2 linked regions of the Homo sapiens genome follow. The protein of the gene in region 1 interacts with the protein of each later gene in a pairwise test. Each region holds a gene or a part of one and is shown in the gene's direction. Other genes may lie near its edges.

Region 1 (3,753 bases):
AAAACATATAAAGAAAAAATAGAATTCCAAGGAAAAATAGACATGTCAACAGTCTTAGTAGAAGACTTTTAACTTTATTTATCTCTCACTAAGATAAATTTAAGTTTGGAAATGTTTAAGGTAGCTGCAATAAAATGTTTGAACAGGATGTCTTAGCTTAAAGTCATTACAAAAAAGTAAATAGAACATAGTGTACATAACAAAACTACAAAATACAAAGAAAAAAGTAAATAAAAAACAACAACCGAAGACCAAAAAATAAGATGACAGAAGTTAAATGAGACCATAAATGTCAATGACTTAATGTATTAAAATACAACATCTTAGGCCATAGTAAAATACAAAATTTAATTTTGTGCTTACAAGAAACACTTGTAAAAGTGTGACAATAAGCTAAAAGAATTAGCAAAACATACCAAAAATGTTTTAAAAATATAGTATAGATGACATTTTTATTATGAAATTAGTATACAATGTAAAATTATCCATAAAAACATTGGGCCTTTAGGACCTAAGAAAAAATAATTATTTCAAATTGTACAAAATAATGTTTTAAAACATTTCCAAATGCACATAAATCTCTGAGAAAATATATATTCCATAAATGTATGCTGAATAACATAAATTTTATAAATATAAAAGGAAAGTAAAGTAAAACTGATGTCTGTATAAACCTACATTAGGGATTTGTTTTCTATGCTCCAGTTCCAACAGAGGATCTGGACATTGCCTCTTCCCTGCTTACTTCCTTGATTGGCTGGACTCCCTCTACATCCCCAGCTTCTACCTGAACATGCATTGTAAATGGGAAGTCTGTGAGCAGACTGTAGACAGGCCTGCTGCTTGGGGAACTGTAGGAAATTTGATTCACCCCAACCCACAGTAAACACTCAGGAAGATGATGGGTTCATTACGAGTTACTCACATCCAGGGGTAGGCAGGCATGTGGCGTGAAACTCCAGAATGCTGAGAGAGAGCTGGAAGGTACAAAAATCTCCCACTAAGTGGTATTACAATTTTCGGTTACAAAATCAGAATATCACTTTTTATCCCATAAATATATATTAATATATATATAATGTATGGACTATATATAGGGAATAAATATATGTATAATTTGTCTCTACATAGGGAATATGTATATATGTAATTTATCAATAAAAAATTTGTTAATCTCCTACTAATGTAAAAGGGAGTTTCTCAAAGGTCTTGATGGGCTCCTCACTTGATTAGAAGGTGGTAACTAGAAGCTGGGTGCATTCATAAGGATTTGAAAACCAAGGAAATTATCACCTCTTGCTGGGAAGGCCCCATCCCTTGCTCTGTGTAGATGTATTATACCTGCAGTCTGAGTCTGTGGGCTCATTTCCATGTACACTCTCACCTTCAGCTCTGCCGCCTTGCTGGCAGTAGCTCAGGCCACAGGTACCCTGGACAGTGGAGGGCTCAAGCAAGACCAAATCTTCTACAGGTAGATGATTCCCAACTCACAATCTCTTTTCTCAACCCCAGAGTTTTAGTTCCCATTCCCTGGTGCTGCTGGATGCTACTGCCAAGGTCTGGACAGGGGACATGGAGGGACACTGAGGGTGATGGGTGGAGATGTGGGAAAGAGATTTGTCTCCGCTCCCAGAAGAAGCAGGCAAAGGGAGGTTGGGATGTTTTGACTTTGAGGTGTCAGTGGTCCCAGGTTCAGCCCACTCTTTGTCCTCTCCATTTCTTCTTGATGCCCTGAATGTTCTACCTGTCATCCAGGCTCCAGTGAACAAGCCAGGAATCATGCTTGACCTCTCACTCTCCTGTTTGCCCCAAAGAAGGCATATGCCTCCCAGGAACGTATGAACATGCACTTCTGTAGCTTTCTTCTTAGAACCTTGGGCACCAATCTTTTTCAGCTGTTTTTATTTCTTTCATTTTATTTTTACGTGGATCTTTTCAGCAAACATTCTAGAGGCTTCTTGAATCCTATTCAATATCATACTTGAGCCAAATGGTAACGAATTAACAAAAAGGTAGCAAATTATTAATATGCTGTCAATGTGCATTGTATGTGGATGGGAGATTTAACTGTTAAGGTCTAAAGGTCCATGATTTTAACCTCATTGCTCATTGATTCAGGACATGATGACATACTTCAGGTCATTAGGGGGATGGGTTAAGGAAGTCTTCCTGAAGTTCTAAAGAGCGTGCCCCTCTGGAGTGGGTGACAGCTGCATAGCTTGTCTGCCGTGCTCTGCCCGAATGCTGTTTTCACATGGCGTCTCTTCTTTCTTTACTTTCAGGTAGAAATTGAGAAGCTGGATTACCATCATTATCTGCCTCTGTTTTTTGATGGGCTTTGTGAAATGACATTTCCCTATGAGTTTTTTGCTCGGCAAGGAATCCACGACATGCTGGAACACGGTGGGAACAAGATCCTACCTGTCCTTCCACAGCTCATTATCCCGATAAAAAGTAAGTGAACCGGTGAAAAAGCATCACTCAGTTTATACGGTGTTGCTTTTTGACAACTTGCTAATTAAGCAATAAACCATGACAGACTGAGGTGATCCCCAGTTTTGCAGGAATTTTCATAAATTGACTTAGGAGGCCAGACAACCCAAATCTCCAAAAATATATCCCATCATCAATATTTCACTATGGCTTAGCCACATAAATAAACCAAATTCCATGGGGTTTGTGCTAATTTAAAATGCCTCACAGTAATGACATAAGCATTAACATTAACTTACGCATCCAGAGGTCTTTACCTGCTGCTGCTAACTTCCAAGTCTTTTTTTTGTAAATGGCATCTCTAATTTTTAAATTATAAACACCGTTATGTTGAGTATATTTGAGGTAGTACCATTCATAATTTTAAGGAAGGGAAGCCCAGCTGCATAGGTGAAAAGAAGAATGTTTTTAAATACCTGAAACTTTTAATCTACAATAGGTAAGCTGGGTGACTCTGGGGTAGCCCTGTGATTGGCTTTGTCTGTGAAATGAGATTGTCCTTCCTTTCTGCATGCACCTTGCTCACAACATTGCACGGCCCCTTGGACTGGTTGTCTAAGAACCTGAGGTTGTCCCACGTGACAGCCTTCTGGGGTTCCAGAACACTCTCTGGCCATTCTTACCTTGCTGCCAGTAGAGCCACCCTGATGGGCATGCCTGGCATCCACTGGTACAGGCTCAGGAAGAGGATGGCCTCTCCTCAAGTCAAGGTGGCAGGGCTGGCCCCTCTCACCCTCACCAGCACATCCCCTCCCCAGCCCCAGAATTGCCCACCTGTCCTGCATTGCTACTGCTGCTACTGCTACTACTAATTAAAAGCAGAGGATCAGTGCCTCCTCTGAACACTCATTCTGCAGATGAGGGAGACCCTACCTTTTTCTCAGCCAGAGCTGCTCCAGGCACTTTCACCCCCTGGATCCAGGCCCAACTGCCCATGGCTTCGAGGGGTGAGGAGGCCCCTGCTCCCCCCGCCCCAAGTTCTACCTCATCTTCCACTCCAGGATGGGCAGCTTCCCAAAATGATTGACAGGACGCTTAGCTAGTCTTCTAGGTTGGGGAACCCCACCCTCACTGGCTCAGGTGAGCTCTTGCCGTGTGCTTTCATCAGAACAAGAACAAACTAGCTCAACATAGGGTCATCTCCCAGAGTCTGGATTATTTAATCGTATCCAAGGTCACCATTTTTATTCATTCATTCGAATTTATCCATTCATTCAAATGTATCATGATCAAAATGCTAGATTTCCACAGTTCTGCTCT
Region 2 (3,753 bases), on another chromosome or scaffold:
TTAATTAGCCAGGCATGGTGGAGTGTCTCTGTAGTCCCAGCTACTGGGAGGCTCAGGTGGGAGGATTGCTTGAGTGCAGGAGATCGAGGCTGCAGTGACCTGTGATCACATCACTGCACACCAGCCTGGGTGAGAGAGCAAGACCCTGTCTCAAAAAAAAAAAAAGAAAAAAGGAAAAAAGAAAAGAAAGTTGTCACAAGAATTAAATGTAATCACATGTTTGAAGTGCCTGACATTATAGTGCTCATAATTTGTTGGGCTGGGCACAGTGGCTCACGCCTGTAATCCTAGCACTTTGGGAGGCAGAGGCGGGCCGTTCACCTGCAGTCAGGAGTTAGAGACCAGCCTGGCCAACATGGTGAAACCCTGTCTCTACTAAAAATACACAAAATTAGCCGGGCATGGTGGTGCACACATGTAATCCCAGCTACTAGGGAGGCTGAGGCAGGAGAATCACTTGAACCCGGGAGGGGGAGGTTACAGTAAGCTGAGATCATGCCACTGCACTCCAGCCTGGGCGACAGAGCGAGACTCCCCCACAAAAAATTTGTTGACTGAAGGAACAGCAAGTGTTTAGTAAATGATACCTTTTATTAATCTCATCATCTTAGATTCTAAAATAAGTAACAAGAACAATAAAACCTTACACAAATCGAAGTATATGTTCCTTAACAAAAAGAAGCACAGGGATTTAGAGGAAAACAAAATCACTTCCTTCCAGGGACAATCCCCAGAGAGGGCTTAGTGTCCCCAGTGGCATTTGCAGTGGGTCTTCAGGGACGGATAGGATGGTGACTGAAGGCTTGCTTTGGGTGGGATGTTTCTCCCAGTGTGCAGTGGTTTGAGGTTTGAGAGAAGCTGTTTTTCATTACCTGGTGGTATAGTGCTTGCTGACCTTCCCTCCTGAGGGGAAAGTCCTTGAACTTGAGGATCTCATTCCATTCCACCACAGGCAAGAAAGTTTCCCAGATCAAATGGAAATGATCAAGTTGAAAGTCAAGAAGAAAAGAAAGTTCAGAGATGCCAAGGGACATCAAAAGGAAAAATGTCTAGAAGTCAACAAGCAAAGGAGCAACTTAGCTGTCCTAAGGATTGTCCCATATCAAGTAGCTCAGCTCCAGATGTTCGGAAGAGGCATTGGTTGTACTGTTTTCTCACCGGATCAGATGGCTTTCAGATAATCTGCTCCTGGCCCCAGGAGGGAAGAGGGCTGTAATGGAGTCTTGAGAACACCTCCTTTCCCTGCCAAAGGTATTGGAAGCCACACAGGCAGGTGTGGCCTCAGTGGTGGAAAGGACTGCTGGTTTTCTGTAATGTATGTCAGAAGGCCTGCCAAGGCTTCTCAGATATGCTGTTACCTATTCTCGCTAATTCATAAGTAAATGAGATGACACAAAAAATGAAGATGTGTTATTAGAAAGTAAAAGACATGTGGACACAGATGGTATATTCATCTCCTCTTCCTACTGAAAGCTGAGATTTATTCATGGGGAACAGAAAAGGTGCAGGACTACCTGTATAGAAGGTGTTGAAGAACAGGATTTGGAGAAAGGGTGCAGGACTGCCTGTATAGATGGTGTTGAAGAGCAGGATTTGGTTTTCTACAACCTAGATAATGAGTTTTTGGTTATGATAAAGTGCATCTCACAAAATCTGAAAGGAACATATTTGACAGTGGTGAAATACATTAACCTGGCCAGGAAGGGATAACATTGAAGAGGAAGTGGAGAGACAGATCTCCAAATTAGATCAAGCCAAATGAAAAAGTAGATAAACCAATATGGTATACAAGAAGGAATGGTAGGAGATGACTGGGGACAGTGGCTCACACCTGCAATCCCAACACTTTGGAAAGCCAAGACAGGAGGATCATTTGAGACCAGGAGTTTGAGACCAACCTCGGCAACATATAATAATAATGATAATAATAATAATAATAATAACAACAATAAAGAATGGTAGAAGAAATTAAAAAAAAGATTTTTGACACTTTGGGAAGCCAAGGTAGGAGGACTGCTTTAGGCCAGGAGTTTGAGACCAGCCTGGGCAACATAGTGAGACCCTGTCTCTACAAAAAAAAAAAAGAAAAATAGAAAACTTATCTGGGCATGGTGGTGCTTACCTGTAGTTCTAACTACTCGGGAGGCAGAGGCTGGAGGATCCCCTGAGCCCAGGAGGTTGAGGCTGTAGTGAGCTATGATCACAACACCGCACTACAGCCTCGGAGACAGAGTGAGACCCTGTTTCAAAAAAAAAAATGGATTTCAAGGTGAACTTGAAATTGGGGCAGAAGGAAATGCATATACACTTTTGGATAGTTCTTGAGTTGCTTGCTTTATTCACTGTGTATTCATCAACAATCAGCAGGCAGCACTTACAAAATGGAGCCTGGGCTTAGCCCTAATTTCCTCCTGTGGTATTAATTTTAGAAGTTAGAATGTTTAAAATCTTTTGTAAACATAAGAGAAATGAAGTTTAGATTACTTGGAATGTTTTGTCTTATCTTGGCCACAGTATTGAAATTTAAATCTAGAAATTGGAGCTGGGTGCAGTGGCTCAGGCCTGTAATTCCAGCACTTGGGAGGCCGAGCTGGGAGGATCACTTGACTACAGCAGTTCCAGGACAGCTTGGGCAATGTAGCAAGACTCTGTCTCCAAAATAAAACAAAATAAAATAAACCTAGAAATTGGGCTCTAGAGAAAAGCACTGAATTAGTTGTCTTTTTTTTTTTTTTCCGAGGCAGGGTCTTGTTCTGTCACCCAGGCTGGAGTGCAGTGGCGCCATCTAGAGTCACTGCAACCCCTGCCTCCAGAGTTCAATGGATTCTTCTGCCTCAGCCCCCTGAGTACCTGGGATTATAGGCACCTACCACCACACCCAGCTAATTTTTGTATTTTTAGTAGAGGCATTGTTTCACCATGTTGGCCAGGTTGGTCTTGAACTCCTGACCTCAATTGATCCACCTGCCTCAGCCTCCCAGAGTGCTGGGATTACAGGCATGAGCTACTGCACTCGGCCTGAATTAGTTATCTTACAGCATAAGGCTGCAATGTAAGATGTGTCTTGTGGGTATCATACTTTAAAAGCTCAAGCATTCTAAAATCTAATCTTATACTTTGTTTCTGTAAGTCATACTTTTTAACTATTTGATAGTAAAATATGAGATAAAAATCAACCCTCCATTGTAACGTTTGTACTCTGGTTCTTGATGTGCAGGTAGATCGTTGGCCGGAGACAGGATATGTGAAGAAACTTCAGAGAAGGGACAATACGTTCTATTACTACAACAAACAGAGGGAATGTGATGACAAAGAAGTCCACAAAGTGAAAATTTATGCTTACTAGCCTGTCTTCTTTGTATTACTTGTCAATTATATTTTAAGTATTCATCATTTCCTTCTACATCATGTGTTTGTCATTTGATGAAATAATTCAAGATGCAGTCTGCAGTTTAATGTTTTGTGAAACACAAAAGCCATGAGAATTGGTATCTGCTAATCACCTTGTCCTGTTCTAAGAACTGGCTGCAGATGCATTAAAGTTGTACTTTCTTGGTCCTGCTCTTTTTGTCCATTTTATTTTATTTTGAGACAGAGTCTCGCTCTGTCGCCCAGGCTGGAGTGCAGTGGTGCAATCTCGATTCACTGCAACCTCTGCCTCCCGGGTTCAAGTGATTCTCATGCCTCAGCCTCCCAAGTAGCTAGAATTACAGGTGTGCACTACCATACCCATCTAATTTTTATATATTTAAT

The links. The genes of interacting proteins can lie anywhere in the genome.
Region 2: the proteins of PACRG (region 1) and MEIG1 interact in binary tests that used the Homo sapiens proteins (3 or more experiments, as listed by UniProt).

Annotation. Positions count from the first base shown.
Region 1 is NC_000006.12:163,059,868-163,063,620, forward strand, and holds part of PACRG (parkin coregulated gene protein), read left to right. Parts: intron 1-2,282; coding exon 2,283-2,454; intron 2,455-3,753. UniProt on the Homo sapiens protein: Microtubule inner protein (MIP) part of the dynein-decorated doublet microtubules (DMTs) in cilia axoneme, which is required for motile cilia beating. Suppresses cell death induced by accumulation of unfolded Pael receptor (Pael-R, a substrate of Parkin).
Region 2 is NC_000010.11:14,969,296-14,973,048, forward strand, and holds the end of MEIG1 (meiosis expressed gene 1 protein homolog), read left to right. Parts: intron 1-3,217; coding exon 3,218-3,346; 3' UTR 3,347-3,562; downstream 3,563-3,753. UniProt on the Homo sapiens protein: Essential for spermiogenesis.